Regions from separate parts of the Homo sapiens genome. Here all the other regions are linked to region 2. The links come from fine-mapping of genetic effects on gene expression. A gene starts in region 2. Each other region holds a variant in brackets. All regions are shown on one strand. Distances are between the middles of the regions.

Region 1 (5,053 bases), 34 kb after region 2:
ACACACGCACGCCACACACAGGCACGCCACACACATGCACACACACATGCATGCCACACACAGGCACGCCACACACGCACACCACACACGCACGCAACACACACGCACGCCACACGCACGCAACACACGCACGCCACACGCACGCCACACACGCACGCCACACACGCACGCCACACACAGGCACGCCACACACGCCACACACGCACGCCACACACGCACGCACGCCACACACGCACGCCACACACAGGCACGCCACACACATGCACACACACACATGCACGCCACACAGGCACGCCACACACAGGCACACCACACACGCACGCCACACACAGGCATGCCAAACACGCACGCCACACATGCACGCCACACACACAGGCACACCACACACAGGCACGCCACACAGGCACGCCACACACACAGGCACGCCACACACGCATGCCACACACAGGCACGCCACACAGGCACGCCACACACAGGCACGCCACACACACAGGCACGCCACACACATGCACGCCACACACGCACGCCACACACGCACGCCACACACATGCTCACCACACGCACGCCACACACATGCACGCCACACACATGCACGCCACACCCACAGGCACGCCACACAGATGCATGCCACACACACAGGCACGCCACACACGCACGCCACACACACAGGCACGCCACACACGCACGCCACACGCACGCCACACACATGCTCACCACACACGCACGCCACACACATGCACGCCACACAGGCACGCCACACACACATGCACGCCACACACATGCTCACCACACACGCACGCCACACACATGCACGCCACACACACAGGCACGCCACACACACACGCACGCCACACACACAGGCACGCCACACACGCACGCCACACGCACGCCACACACATGCTCACCACACACGCACGCCACACACATGCACGCCACACACACAGGCACACCACACACATGCACGCCACACACACATGCACGCCACACACATGCACGCCCCACACAGACATGCCACACACAGGCACACCACACGCACAAGTGCACACACACCACACAATGCACATGCACACCCTACACACATGTTCACACCCACACACGTGTGCACATGCACACACCCCCCCCATCAGAATGAGGTTCCACCCCACACACAGGCCCACGTCGCCACACTGCACCATCCAACTGGGAGTCCTCGCCAGGAGAACCAGGATGAAGAGCCGCCAGGAAGCGAGAAGGCCGCATACCTTATCGATGAAATACAGGGCCACCGCCCGCTGTCTCGTCTTCATTTCCCGAGACTTCCAGTCAGCCCGGTACTGGGAGCGGATCTCGTCCACAAATCCCCGCAGGCGTCGAGCTGTTTCAAACTTCTGCCAAGCTGTCTCCCCCTAAACGAAGAAAATAACAGGAAAGAAAACATTCACATTCCTGTTAAATAACGGAGGAGGCTGTCAACTCTCCCTCCCCCAAACCTCGTGCTTCTCCACTCAGTGGTGCCGTGGTCAGGGGCTGGGGCAGCAAATCTAGCTGGGTGATGCCGGCAGTGAGCACCCATGCCCACTCCTGGCTTTGGGGCTTGTGCCTGCTGGCACAGCATGACCTCAGCACGGGCTGGCCGACTCCCAGCCCATCTCAGAAGCCTCTGCCGGTGCCCGGCTTACACACCTCCCTGCCGGCGTCCTCAGGGGGACCTCCTGGGGAGGAAACACCCTGCCAAGCCCTGCGCTCACCTTCAGCTTCGAGCAAGGGTTCAGCATGATGTACTTGATGGAGTTCTGAACGCTCTCGGTCCAAGCTGCCAGCCACGTGACGGTGTTATCGGAGCGCACCTCCTTCCACTGGTGCCCCGCCGGCGGCTCGGGGATCTTCGAGTCCCTGCAGCAGAACAACGACCCAAACATAACTTGGAGACCTTATTCTCTGGAATGCAAGCAAAAGGAGCTGCTCTGGTCAACCGTCCCACGTGGTGGCTATGGTGGTGGCATGGCTCCTGACCGAGTC[T/C]GGCATCAGAGGTGGCCTGCCTGGCAGCTCAGACAAAAGCAGCCACTCAATCTACCCTCTGCACACACAGGAAGGCCACAGTGCACCAGGAGGCTGGGCGGCCACCCAAGCAAGGCACCGCTCTGCACAGACCTCTCAGCACCAACTGGGACGACGAGTGCCCTGCCCCACACAGCCTGGCCACTGGGGGTCCTGCAGGCAGGGTCCCTACTCCACCCTGTGGTCACACAGTACAACATGTGGCCCAGCAGTCCCCTCTCCACCACTTGGAATGTCCCTCCAATAAGTTCAAAACACCTAATGCTACTGGGCCATCCAGATGGTGTGGGATATGAAAACCACATGGAGGTGTCCTTGGCGGGAGAAAGTCTCAGCCATAGCAAGGCGAGGACTTCCGACCCCGTGGGAAGCACCCTGGGAAGGCCGCCCTTGCCCGGCCACGCCTACAGGCTGAGCTCCACAGGAATGGTGTGGGGGTCACCAACCACATGTTTCTCGGTGTGCCTCCCTCTCCCAGGAGGTGAAGAAAAGCCAGCCTCACCCGGGTGGCGGGGGTCCAGTGCCCGCCTGCTGCCCGCCCGGCCACGCACCTGCTGCAGTTGATAACCACATCCTCTGGCGTGATCCTTCTCTTCAGCATCCCCATCTTGGGATGGTCGCCACGGCCACGGAACAAGCCAGGCGGCTCAATCTTGAAGTTGCCTATTTTTTCTTGGTGACCATCTAAAATACAGTAGCCGAACTCTTGCTGAAGTTTTTCTGCCTCTTCTTTTAGCTTCTGAGTTAATAAAACAGTCAGTGGACATTAGCAGTGAAGAGAAGAGAACAGGCCTCAGTCCGTTGTTGCTAACCCGGGACCACCCTGCTCTGTCTGGCTAACTCAGCTGGACCCTCAAAGCCCTTCACAATCCATGGAGGTTGCAGGGGCAGGGGACAGTGCAGGTGGGCTTGCAGGGGGCACCGAGAGCCATGGCCTAACCACCCCATGGCCTGGACTCCCCGGCCCCTGCACAGACTTCGGCTGTTTTAGGCCTAAGCAGTAAAGCCAGGTGGAGGGAGCGTGGCTGCCCGCCATGGAGGAGGAGGGCTAAGGGAATCCCTGAGAAGGCCACATGGAGATCACAGCACGGCAGGTTCCTGTTAGATGTAGGGAGACGCATGGCACAGAACAGCAAGAAGCCGACTGGCCTGCACAAGCCCCGCCCTCAGCCCACGGCCCGTCTGGGAACCCACCCTTGATCAATGATGGTAAATTATCCATTTCAAACCGGGTTTACTCTCAAATGTGCTCTGGGGAAGCGGAACGACACTTAAGCACATGCAGGGGCGCTAAGGCTGACGAGAAAAGAGCAGCTTTGTGAGAAGGGGCTTCTCTAAGGCCACAGGCCTTTCTCAGTCTTTGGGCCAGGCCGGCCTCTCGTTCCCAGGGGCCACTTCAGGTCACACAACGCTCGAGGCAGCCCAACCTGCTTCTCCTCCCTGCTCAGGACTTTCCGGGCTGCGGCCTTGTCCACAAAGTATCTGTGGATCTCCGTGAAGTCACACTTGTCCAGGCTCTTGATGACTTCCCTCTCTTCCACCGCCATTTCCTGCAAAAACCACAGACACGCGCTCTCACCATGTCTGAAGGACAGACATGCAGAGCGCTCTCGCCATGTCTGACGGACAGAAACGCGCTCTCGCCATGTCCGACGGAGGCGTGTGTGCAATAGGCAGAACCTGCGCACGGTCCTGCGGCCCCGTAAATAGAGCCTCTCCCCGCAGACCCCACAGATAGAGCTGGTTCTGTTATTGCAGGCATGGAGTTGGGTGGGGCAGCGGAGGGCACAGTTCTCCAAAAGCAACTTCACAACAAGTCAGTAGTAAAACTGGCTAAAACCTTTGCACCCAATAATTCCACTTTGAGATCCATCCTAAATAAACTCTCCAGTATGAAAACCCGGATGACGACCGCACTAAGGGCAACTGCAGAAACGTCATGACCGGACAGAGCAGGATACATGGTCGGGAGCTCATCTGGTGAACGTGACGGGATTCGCGAGGGCAAAGTCTCAGTCCATACGTGCTGCTGCCACAAAATACCGGGGACTGGTCAGTTGTAAATCATAGTCACAGCTCTGGGGGCTGGAAGGCTGGGATCAGGGTCCCAGCATTTGACGTCTATGGAGGGCCCAGTCCCTGCTTCTGAGAGGATGCCCTGAAGGCTGTCCTCACACAGTGGAGGGGACAGAAGGACAGAAGGGGCCCAGCTAATTCCACCCAGCCCTGCCCTAAGGCCCTAAATTAATCCTAAGGGCTGCAGCAAGGTGGAGTCCTCACAGCCCAATCAGCTCCTAAAGGCCCTCCCTCTGTCCTGTGGTGCTGGGGATTCAGTTTCAAGGTGAATTTTGGAAAGCACAGCAGAAAACAGTTTGACGATGATCTACCCGTGTGGAGACTAAGCGGGATAAAATGCTAAGTGGGGAAAACATTACAGGCACACTGATCACACTCACACGAAAACTAGTGCCCAGGAAAAGCCAGGACGCGGGAACAGGAGACACTGACCTGAGGGAGAGCCGCAGATCACAGGCAACTGTTTCTCCTTTCGTTTCCTACACAACAAAAACTCTGCACAGCCCATGGACAAAAGCCCAGGCTTGCGGGCACCAGCTCACGGTCCCAGTCCAGGCTCGGCCACTTAGGCCTGTGAGACCTCAGGAGCTGCTGTCAAACGTGTCTCGCTGTGGGATGGGGATGATCCGCCTCTTCCGAGGAGCTCAGGTACGACACCATCTGTGCCAGGATGGAGCCCTGCTCGGCCACAACCACGGGCTCAGGGTCCGTCCCTGTGTCTCCCGGGGCCGCCGGATGTGCCACCCACTCCTGTTCTGCTGCTTTGTGACACTGCCTCCCTTCCTAGCTCTGCTAGTGACTGGAAGAAGTGCTGACCAGAGGGAGAATGAGGATGCCGGGCAGCTGGTGCCACCTCACAAAGCTGTCGTGAAAGGCAGAGGGGTGGCATCAGGCCAAAGAAGAGGGTCCAGAAGCGGAGCCTGCACAGGGGACAAGGAAG
Region 2 (5,053 bases):
ACCGTGTTGGCCAGGCTGGTCTCAAACCCCTGACCTCAGGTGATCCACCCGCCTCGGCCTCCCAACGTGCTGGGATGACAGGAGTGAGCCACTGCGCCAGGCCCAGCTGTCTTTGTTTTTCAGGGGTGCCTTTGGTAATTTCTTCATCGTACTTTTTTTTTTCAGGGTAGCAGGTAAGAGACTCAGTGGATAGGCTCATGGAAACAGTCCTTGAAGGGGTGGTATTCTAAGACTCAGCTACTTTTTTTTTTTTTTTTTTTTTTTTTTTTTTTTTGAGACGGAGTCTCACTGTGGAGTGCAGTGGCGAAATCTTACTGCAACCTCCGCCTCCTGGATTCAAGCAATTCTCCTGCCCCAGCCTCCCGAGTAGCTGGGACTAAGGCAAGCACCAACATGCCTGGCTAATTTTTTGTAATTTTTTTTTTGGTGGAGATGGGGTTTCACTATGTTGGCCAGGCTGGTCTCGAACTCCTGACCTCGAGTGATCCTCCTGTCTTGGCCTCCCAGAGTGCTGGGATTACAGGCGTGAGCCACCTCTCCGGCCTGGACTCGGCTACTTTTGGATCAAGAAATCCAGAATTTTCTAGACTGTGAACTTGCCCTTTATCATGGACATTTACCACCTGCAACTGCCCAGAGGTTCTCTGTCTCACCCTACACCGTGAGGACCCCCTTAGCAAACAGAATTCCAGGGCGCGGGCTCTTCGCAGGATCTGAGCTATTCGCGGGCGTCCTGAGTTGCTTGGATTCACTCCCCCACCCCCATGTCCCTGGAGTCCTGCCTTGTGTTTTCGATTCTGTTTCTCAGGGGCCCCAGCGTGTGGCCTCCCATTGTGGGAGAGCAGGAGGGAAGCGGTGAGGGGTGATTTCGGAGGAGGCAGAGCCCCGGGTGTCCGTGGGAAGCTCCAAAGCCGGGCCGCGGGACGGCTACCCTGGGCTGTGACGCAGTCCAGGATCTTCGCCAAGGCACCTGCTGGAGGCCCCTCCTGGGTCCCACGACCCCGACTGCGCCTGCCGGCTGCCAGCGAGGAGGCGGGGCCAAGGCGAGGGCGGGGCCGAGGCAGGAGGGGCGGGGTCGGCCTGATGGGCGGGGCTTCCGTGTGGGCGGGGCTGCTGGCCCTGCGGTCTGAGCCAGCGGGGAGAGGCCCGGGCGGAGGAGGCTGCGGACTCCTAGAGGTTCAGTGCCGGAAGTTGGGCCTGGAAAGGGGGCACCGCCTTCCCGGTTCTGGTGGCGGGGAGTGAGGGGACGGGCGAAAGCGGCACAGGGAACAGCATGACACGGGCCTGAGGCAGGGCACATTTGGAAAGGGGCGAGGAGAGGGCAGTGGCTTCTGGCACGGCAGCAGTGGGCATACAGAGGCAGTCGGGACCCGTCTGGAAGAGCCTCCGCCCGGGGTAAGGAGCCGGGACTGTGTCTAGGAGGCAGTGGGGAGCTCCGGAGAGCGAAGCGCCTCCTGCGCAGACTCGCGTGCTTGGAGTACCGGAGCCTGCAGGGCAAGAGAGGGTCTTCAGAAGACCCACGACGTTCCACTGGGATGCAGAGGGAAACGGTTACTTGTACTTCTACATCATCTCTTTTAGATGTGTGTGTGTGTGGTGTGTGTTGTTGTTGTTGTTTTTGTTTTGCGACAGAATCTCTGTCACCCAGGCTGGAGTGCAGTGCCAATCTCGGCTCACTGCAGCCTCCGCCTCCCGAGCTCAAGTGGTCCCCCCGCCTCAGCCTCCCGAGTAGCTGGTACCACAGGCGCCGGCCACCACGCCCGGCTAATTTTTAAAAAAAATTTTTAGTCGACACGGTTCTAACTATGTTGCTCAGGCTGGTCTGAAACTCCTGGACTCAAACAATCCTCCTGCCTTGGCCTCCCAAAGTGCTGGGATTACATTCATGAGCCTCTCGCCCACCCAGTCTAAGTGTTTTAATTTTTATCTTTTACAACAGCTTCTAATTTGTTACAAATAAACGTGCAGCATGTGGTGGGAGTGTTCAGGTGTTTACTGGTGCAGTGCGCAATGAACGCGGTTCCAGGCACGAGATGTGGAGGCCCAGAGGCAGATGCCGGGTGGCGGCGGCGCGGGACTGTCGGAGGCGCGGGCAGGGACCTGGGCTCCCAAGGCTGTGGCCCTCCCGCCCCAGTCCAGGGTCCAGTTCCAGGGGCGCGTCTGGCCCTCTGTTGCTGTCTTCTTAGGGTTCTCTCATGGGAATCGGTTCTTCAGCCTTTCTTTTCTCCCCAGAGAGGGTCTGTCTACTCGTTGTAAGAGGGAACAAGTCCACATTGCAGCTGTACACTTTGCACCCATGATGAAAAGCGTCACTTTTGCAGCATTCCAGCTGGAGATGCGTGACCTTCGGTCTGCGGCAGGCGGAAGGGCGAGAGACTTGGACAGGAGGTGCATCTTGCCCGGGGAAGGCTGAACGAATGAGAGCTCGGTCCCTGGTGAGAAAGAGCCCAGAGCCCGCGAGAGGCGGGCAGCAAGGGCTTCTCTGCAGCGGAGACGCGAGGGCGGCGTCCTGCAGGGAGGCGGGGGGCAGCGCCTGGGGCGCTCCAAGCTCTCGGCCCCAAGGAAGCCCACGCTCGGGACCCGCGTGCTGCCACAGCCCCGGGGGCCTGGAGGGTCCCGTGAGCCGAGCGGGACCCGGGACAAGCGCGGGACGCCGCGGGGAACGGACGGGAACGCGCGTGGCCGCCCCACAGCGGGCCTTCGACACCTCCTGACACGTCCTGCGGGTGCCCGGTCCTCAGTTGGCTCGAGCCGGATCCCGGCGCGCCAACGGCTCGACCTTGCCCCCCACGAGGCAGGGCTTCCTGCCCGGCAGGAAGGACTCGGCCGGCGCCTGCGGGCAACCGATGAGCTGAAGGCGCCGCGGCTGGGCCGTCCCGCTCTCCCGCCGCCGAGCGCGCTGTCCTCCCGCTGCCCAGAGCGTCGCCGGAAGTGCCGAGGGGGCGGGCCAGGGGTGGAGACTGGCGTTTCCGGCGCGCGACGGGGCGGGGACCGTAGCGGGTGCAGTCCAGCTGCTCTGGACGCTGAGGCCCCGGCTTCTCTTGCTGGGGTGTCGATTCGGGAGGGCTGAGGGCGCGGCCGAGAGAACGGGGCGGTCACCGCCGCCGTGGCCCGCGCGTCCCGCGCTCTCCTTGCAGTGCAGGCCCCAGCCGCTCTCGGGCGCGGCGTGGGGGAGGCGGCCCTGCAGGTGCGTACCCGGGGTCCGACACGTGCGGGGCTTCCTGCGAGCTGAGTCCCCGCTGCGCGTCTTCAGGCCTTTGTAAGTTGTCAAATTTCCCACCGGCCCAGCTCATCGAGCTTCTTCCCAGCTGTGAACAGGAGGGCCTGTTCCCTAATTCTTGCCGGTAAGGTACTTGCAAAAATCTGCTTCCAGACTAAAAAATTGCACTTTAAATTACCTTTTTGTAAAAGCGGCGGGGTCTCGCTATGTTTCCCAGGCTGGCCTCCTACTCCTGGGCTCAAGCGATCCTCCCGCTCAGCCTCCCTGGCAGGCGGGATTACAGGCGGCTTAAATTAAATTTACTAATTAATCACTTTATTTACTTATTTTTTTAAGACAGGGTCTCACTCCAACGCCCAGCTGGAGTGCAGTGGCGAAATCTCGGTTCACCCCAGCCTAGACCTCCTGGGCTCAGGCAGTCCTCCCACCTCAGCCTCCCTAGTAGCTGGGACTACAGACGCCCACCATCACACCTGGCTAATTTTTTGATTTTTTGTAGAGACGGGGTCTCACTATGTTGCCCAGGCTGGTCAGGAACTCTTGTAATCAGTCAGTCCTCCATCCTGAGCCTTTTGAAGTGCTAGGATTACAACTGTGAGCCACAGCACCCAGCCAAATTACATTTCTTAATTGCACTTGAGGTGAGACCTAAAAAAATGTATTGCCTACTGGTTTTTCTTCTTTGTGAGTTACCTATTCATGATCTTTGCCAATTTTCCTTCCTTTCTCATTAATATATAGAGGTCTTTATCAGATAGGGATGAATCTTTGCATTGCACGTATTCCTCCCTTTTTGGTTTTTTTTTTTTACATTAAATTTTTTTATGTAGTTGAATTTGTCAGACATCTGATGTCAGGCTTAGAAAAATCATTCCTCATTCCAAAACTTTACCATTCAAATAAGTTGTTCTTTTCTTCTGGTTTAACATTTTTATATTCAAATCCTTATAACTACCAAGAAAATTTTAAAACCCATGGGAATTTCTCTAGACATTTGAAGACTGCTGGAGGGCGCGGGCTTCCTCAGCATGGAGCTAGGAAGCTGTGGCCACGCCCACCTGTGCTCTGCGTCAGCCCTGGGTGGAGGGGGACCCGCAGAGCCTGGACCAGAGTTCCTGGGCATCCCACAGAACAGAACACCCGCTTCTGGGAGTGTCTGTTGAGCCAGGACCTTGATTGCTAGTGACAGGAGTGGGCCCAGCTGGGTGATGCAGCTCCCACAGGGCCTGTTCTGACAGTTTCCTCTGAAGGCATTCTGACCTCACTGCCCCTGGCCCCTGTACCTAGCCCTGGCTGTGATTTATTTTCCTTTTCTTTTACCTAAGCAGAAATTGTTCCAACTGCTGGTGTTCTGCAAGATGGAGCCAGGAGGAGAGCCCACAGGTGCTAAAGAGAGCAGTACCCTGATGGAGTCCCTTGCAGGTGAGGGGACATGTCCACAGTCGGGCCCAGAGTTCCAGGGCAGGAATTGAACAGGAATACAGGAAAAACACCATGTCTCAGTCACTGACGCAGAGCATATACTGTGTCCTTGGGCGCAGGGTGAGGGAGGGAGGTAAACGCAGGCCCATCAGATCTCCTGGGCATCTGTTTGGTGACTGTCTTTGCCAGTGAACTGAGAGCTTTTGGTTAGAAAGTCTGGCAGCCCCAGGCTCTGCCTCTGGGAAGGTCTCTCTCTCAGTGCTTCTCCACCTTGGCACCGTGGCTGTTTTGGAATGGACGAGTCTTTGTTGAGGGGCCATCCTGTGTGTTGTAGGACGTTCGGCAGCACCCTCGCCTCTGCCCACTTGGTGTCAGTAGGGCCCCCTCCCAGTTGTGACAATCCAAAACATC
Region 3 (5,053 bases), 68 kb after region 2:
GGGCCGGCCAGGCCCAGGCCACTCACTCCCCGGCCCACGGCTGCTTGCCATTACAGTTCAACCAAAGCCTGGCAGCAGCCGTCAAAGGATTCCAGGTAACCAGTAACCAACCCTCCCAGGATGGACAAGCGTGCAGTCCCCACACCTAACTCCAGCTCCTTCTACACCCTACACACGACCCAGGCAGCATGCTGGCAGCAGATCCAACCCTTCTGAAATTTGACATAAATGCACCTTGTGTGAACACAAAGTACATATTTTTAAATTTATCTAAGTAAATGATCAAAAAAGCTTTTTATACTTGTAAAATACTCATTTCAAAAAGGTTCATCCAGGTGCAGTGGCTCACGCCTGTAATCCCAGCACTACGGGAGGCTGAGGCGGGCGGATCACAAGGTCAGGAGTTTGAGACCAGCCTGGCCAACATAGTGAAACCCCGTCTCTACTAAAAATACTAAAATTAGCCAGTCATGGTGGTATGCACCTGTAGTCCCAGCTACTCAGGAGGCTGAGGCAGGAGAATAGATTGAACCCAGGAGGCAGAAGTTGTGGTGAGCTGAGATCGCGCCACTGAACTCCAGCCTGGGCAACAGAGTGAGACTCTGTCTCAAAAAAAAAAAAAAAAAAAAAAAAAAGACCACATGCAGTGGCTCACGCCTGTAATCCCAGCACTTTGGGAGGCCGAGGAGGGTGGATCACAAGGTCAGGAGATCAAGACCATCCTGGCTAACACAGTGAAACTCCATCTCTACTAAAAAATAGAAAAAATTAGATGGGTGTGGTGGCGGGCGCCTTTAGTCCTAGCTACTCGGGAGGCTGAGGCAGGAGAATGGTATGAACCCGAGAGGCAGAGCTTGCAGTGAGCCAAGATAGTGCCACTGCACTCCAGCCTGGGCGACAGAGTGAGACTCCATCTCAAAAAAAAAAAAAAAAAGCTTCATGAGGCTGAGCACAGTGGCTTACACTTGTAATCCCAGTACTTTGGGAGGCTGAGGCAGGAGGATCTCTTGAGCCTAGGCGTTCTAGACTAGGCTGGGCAACATAGGGAGATAGGGAGATCCCATCTCTACAAAAATTAAAAAGAAGAATTAGCCAGCACAATAGTGCACACCAGTAGTCCAGCTACTCAGGAGGCTGAGGTGGGAGGATCACTTGGGCCCAAGAGGTTGAGGCTGCAGTTAGCTATGATCACCACTGCACTCCTGGGCGACAGAGTGAGACCTTGTCTCAAAAAAAAAAAAAAAAGTTCGAGAGTAAAAACAAAAATTAAGAATACAACATATTGAACATGTTGAAGATTGTGAGTTTAAAAATGAAACATTAAGGCCAGGTGTGGTGATTCACATCTGTAATCCCAGCACTTTGGGAGGCTGAGGCAGGGACTGCTTGGGGCAAGGAGTCCAAGATCAGTCAGAGCAACATAGTCAGGCCTTGTTTCTACAAAAATAAAAATAAAAACATTAGGCCAAGTGCGGTGGCTCACGCCTGTAATCCCAGCACTTTAGGAGGCTGAAGCAGGCGGATCACCTGAGGTCAGGAGTTCTAGACCAGCCTGGCCAACATGGTGAAATCACGTATCTACTAAAAATACAAAATTAGCTGGGTGTGGTGGCACACGACTGTAGTCTCAGCTACTCAGGAGGCTGAGGCAGGAGAATCGCTAGAAACTGGGAGGCAGAGGTTGCAGTGAGCCAAGATTGCACCATTGCACTCCAGCCTGGGTGACAGGAGCGAAACTCCGTCTCAAAAAAAAAAAAAAAAATTAGCTGGGCATGGTAGCACACGCCTGTGGTCCCAGCTACTGGAGAGGCTGAGGCGGAGGATCACTTGGGCCCAAGGGTTTGAGGTTATAGTAAACTATGATCACCACTGCACTCCCACCTGGGTGACACAGCAAGACTCTGTCTCTACACAAAAGTAATAATATAAATAAATAAAAATGAAACATTCACAGTAAATAAAAGGCTGGAACCTGGTCTTCGCCCTGTCTTCCCTGATTTTTATGCTTTGGCTTCTTCACTTTGAGCTTCTTTGCATTTTCCAGCCTTATCTGCCCAGTACTCTCTCTCTTCCTTTAATCAAAGAAATACGCTCCTGTAACTCCAAAGAAGAAACGGCAACACCAGTGCCAAAATGATGTTTTTGACAGGAAGAAACATAAACTTCACAGGAAAGCAGTGACATCACGCCCCTCCCATTCCTCCCCTGTTCTGATCCTGGGCTGTGGTTCAGACAGGACCTACAGCCCAGACAGCTCCTTCCACCCCATTCTCTACCATTGTAGTGATGAGGTTAGACCCGAATGTTACAAGAGCTGGGCAAGCAGGTGAAGCACCCCCAGCAACAAAATCCATCATCATAAACATGCAAAGGCCACTGCTTCCCAAAAGTATTTGCTACCTCTTGAGAGCAACTTTATCATCCACTGGCAACTGCTTCAAATTGGGCCCCGACTGTCTCCCATCACCTATCTGCAACTGAGTGTCCCCACCTGCAAGAAAACACACAC[A/G]TCTCCAGGGCCCTGGGGTGAGCAGCAGGACCGTTCCACAGAGGTGAGCCTGGACCCAGGCAGCAGGGACACTGCTGCACCTGCGGCTGGAGTGACACCGAAAACACAGCAGCAGCTGAGAGGGCAGGAGAGGCAACCGGCCACGAGCCTCTGTTGGCTCCAACCACCAAAGGATGGTGCTTATTCCTGACCCCATTACTACGCAACCAGGCTCACTAGAAAGTTTCCATTAGCCGGTCTGGAGCATATTCCTGGGTGTGATATGCCATCATGTTCATGTTTTTTAAATCACTATTAAGTAAAGCGTTTTTTTTGTTTTCTGTTTTTTGGTTTTTTTTTTAGAGACAGGGTCTCACTATGTTGCCCAGGCTGGTCTCAAACCCTGAGCTCAAACGATCCTCCTGCCTCAGTCTCCCAAAGCGCTGGGATTATAGGTGTGAGCCACCGCACCGGCCCTTAAGTAGACTATTTTGAATGCTGCATAGAGACTCCCCTGAAAATAGCCTGTTCTTGGGTTTTAGCTGGGAGCTTATGGCTTTAGATGCGCCAGACCAAAAGAAAAAAAAACAGCTGCAAACCTGAGGTGTTACAAGGTGGCTGCCAGCAAAGCGATCCAGGAGAAGGGAGGCAGGTCACCACGCCAGGAGAAGAGAAGGGCAGGGAAAAGGCCAACTCCGGGAAGAAAGGCCCTGGGGCAAAGCGCATCCAAAGCCGTCACTCTGGGGCAGAAGACAGAGCGGAATCCCATCAGCGACGGCCGTTTCCAGACCCTTTTCCTAGGCAGCCAGACCGGCACCGCTGGCCAGGTGCAGGGCCCAAGCAGAAAGTCAGGAGCCAAGGGAGCGATGAGGAGGGGTGGGGCAGCCAGGGGAGAGGACACCGAGCGGGAGGGGTAAGCGAAGGGGGAAGAGAACAAGGGGGCCTGGAGGGGGGACACAAAAGGAGGGCCCATGGAGATGGAGGAAACACTGAGGGGTGAAGCACACGGAGGGGGGACACAGAGGAGGAGGGGACACGTTGGTGGCGTCGTGCGCGGAGGGGGAGGTACACGGAGGAGTCGCGGAGAGGCGAGGGATGTGGGAGGTCGTCACCAACAGCGCGACCTGGGTCACCCACAGGAAGAGGGCCACTGAGGGCCCCGCCTGACCCCTCCCTCCTGGTGGCCCTGCGCCCTCAGGCCGAGTCCCACCTCCTCTGCAGCTCTTCCAGGACCCACGCGGTCCCACCGCACCACGGCTCCCCCGGACCCCGCTTCCCCGAGGCCTGCGCGGAGACGCCGGGAAGGCCCGAGCCCGCGCATGCGCAGCCGCCGCCACGTGCCTGCCTTGACGCCGCCGGTGCTGCCGGGAAGGGGGCGGGCTGCGCAGGCGCGGGAGAGGCCCACGCGGTGGCCACGCGGGGCGTCCGGTGGCTGCGCTCGGTTGGGCCCCTGGGCTCGCGCGCTCCGTGGGCCGCGGTGCTGACGGGCACCCAGGAGGTGGGGTGGGAGGCGGCCGGCCGGGGTGGAGGGGCGTTCCTGGGCCGACGTGCTGTTGGCTTCCGCGACGTGGTGGAGTCTCGCCAGTCCCTGCAGCGCTTCTGCGACTCTGAAGATAAAGAGGATCGTATTTTGAGAAAAGCTCATGGAGCAAGGAGCTCAAGGAGCAAGGCCTGAGGTGCAAGCTGTCACCGGGTCGCATCTGCTTAGCAGCCTGCACATTGCTAGCGAGAGTCTCCACTCAGCCTGAACATAGTGCTTGGGAGGAGGAGGGCCGCCAGGCCACACCCGTGGGGTGCAGGATGCGCCATGTCGGGGTCCGTGAGTCTGGGGTGACGTGAGATCCCAGAGGCTGAGTCTGGAAAATTGAGCGGATGTGGCCGCGGTAGCAGAATGGACGAAGGCCTCCAGGCCGAGAGGGAGCTCTGTGTACAAGGGCACGGCAAGTGGCCACCGGTGGCCAGTGTGGAGTACGGCTCCCTCCAAAGCAGGCTCTTCCTGCAGGTATTTTATCCGGGAGGTGGACTCAGGAAGCACAGGTAAGGGAGTAGGGAAGTACACGTGTTGGGGAGCAGGTGAGAGCCGGGGCCCCTGGACTAGTCCTCCTGGAGGCCTCTGGGAGAGCACAGGACACAGTTCCGAGTGGGTTTGCTCTGGTTTTGAGGGGCCATCCTTGCCGCCCCACCTCTGCCAACTGCACTTCCAGCAAGCCCCGGGCATAGGCCAGCACCCCTAAGCACTGAGAAAAGCGCTCAGGCAGGAAGTTGCAGGTGCTGGGGGCGGGGGGGCGTTGGGGTGCATGGGAAAGGCAGGGTGCTGAGAGCGTCAGCCGCACTGCATGTGTGTGCGTGGTGGGGCTGGGGAAGGGCTGGCGCGTGTTGACACGATGGTGCGGGCACCGGGGAGCACCACCCCCACATGATCCCCTGTATGTTGCAGAGAGATGATGGCACCAGTGGGCACACTGCTCGCAGGTCAGGAGGAAACAGGGCTTGGTCAGGCCAGAGACAGTAGGAGCCTAAACCGCAGGCCTGCAGAGGTTGAGGGGAGGTGTCTGATAATTAGTA

Alleles and levels. Positions count from the first base shown, and alleles are read on the strand shown. Sizes are in standard deviations (SD) of each study's normalised expression. Not every link is listed here.
As copies of T replace C in region 1, the expression in thyroid of the gene that starts at base 2,994 in region 2 goes down (small effect, 0.31 SD a copy in GTEx).

Evidence for each region. PIP is the estimated chance that this variant, and not a neighbour inherited with it, causes the effect. A credible set is the group of variants that fine-mapping cannot tell apart.
Region 1: its variant is fine-mapped to the expression of ZNF696 in thyroid (GTEx, PIP 0.93).
Region 3: its variant is the best candidate, but not a certain one, in a credible set for the expression of ZNF696 in whole blood (INTERVAL, PIP 0.75).

What each region holds. Positions count from the first base shown.
Region 1 is chr8:143,322,758-143,327,810 of GRCh38, forward strand. It overlaps TOP1MT (DNA topoisomerase I mitochondrial), which reads right to left. Exons shown (of 14, transcript NM_052963.3): 4 at 3,465-3,587; 5 at 2,589-2,776; 6 at 1,728-1,872; 7 at 1,242-1,385. Among named protein-coding and RNA genes, the nearest start is that of TOP1MT, 9.6 kb to the right of the region's middle. RefSeq lists enhancers at 1-301, 302-963. The variant T/C (reference allele first, on the strand shown) is at 1,999.
Region 2 is chr8:143,288,424-143,293,476 of GRCh38, forward strand. ZNF696 (zinc finger protein 696) reads left to right here and starts at 2,994. Exons shown (of 3, transcript NM_030895.3): 1 at 2,994-3,344; 2 at 4,549-4,642. The coding sequence starts at 4,579. RefSeq lists an enhancer at 2,483-3,058 and a silencer at 2,529-3,248.
Region 3 is chr8:143,356,177-143,361,229 of GRCh38, forward strand. It overlaps a transcript of TOP1MT not described here. Among named protein-coding and RNA genes, the nearest start is that of RHPN1-AS1, 9.9 kb to the right of the region's middle. The variant A/G (reference allele first, on the strand shown) is at 2,510.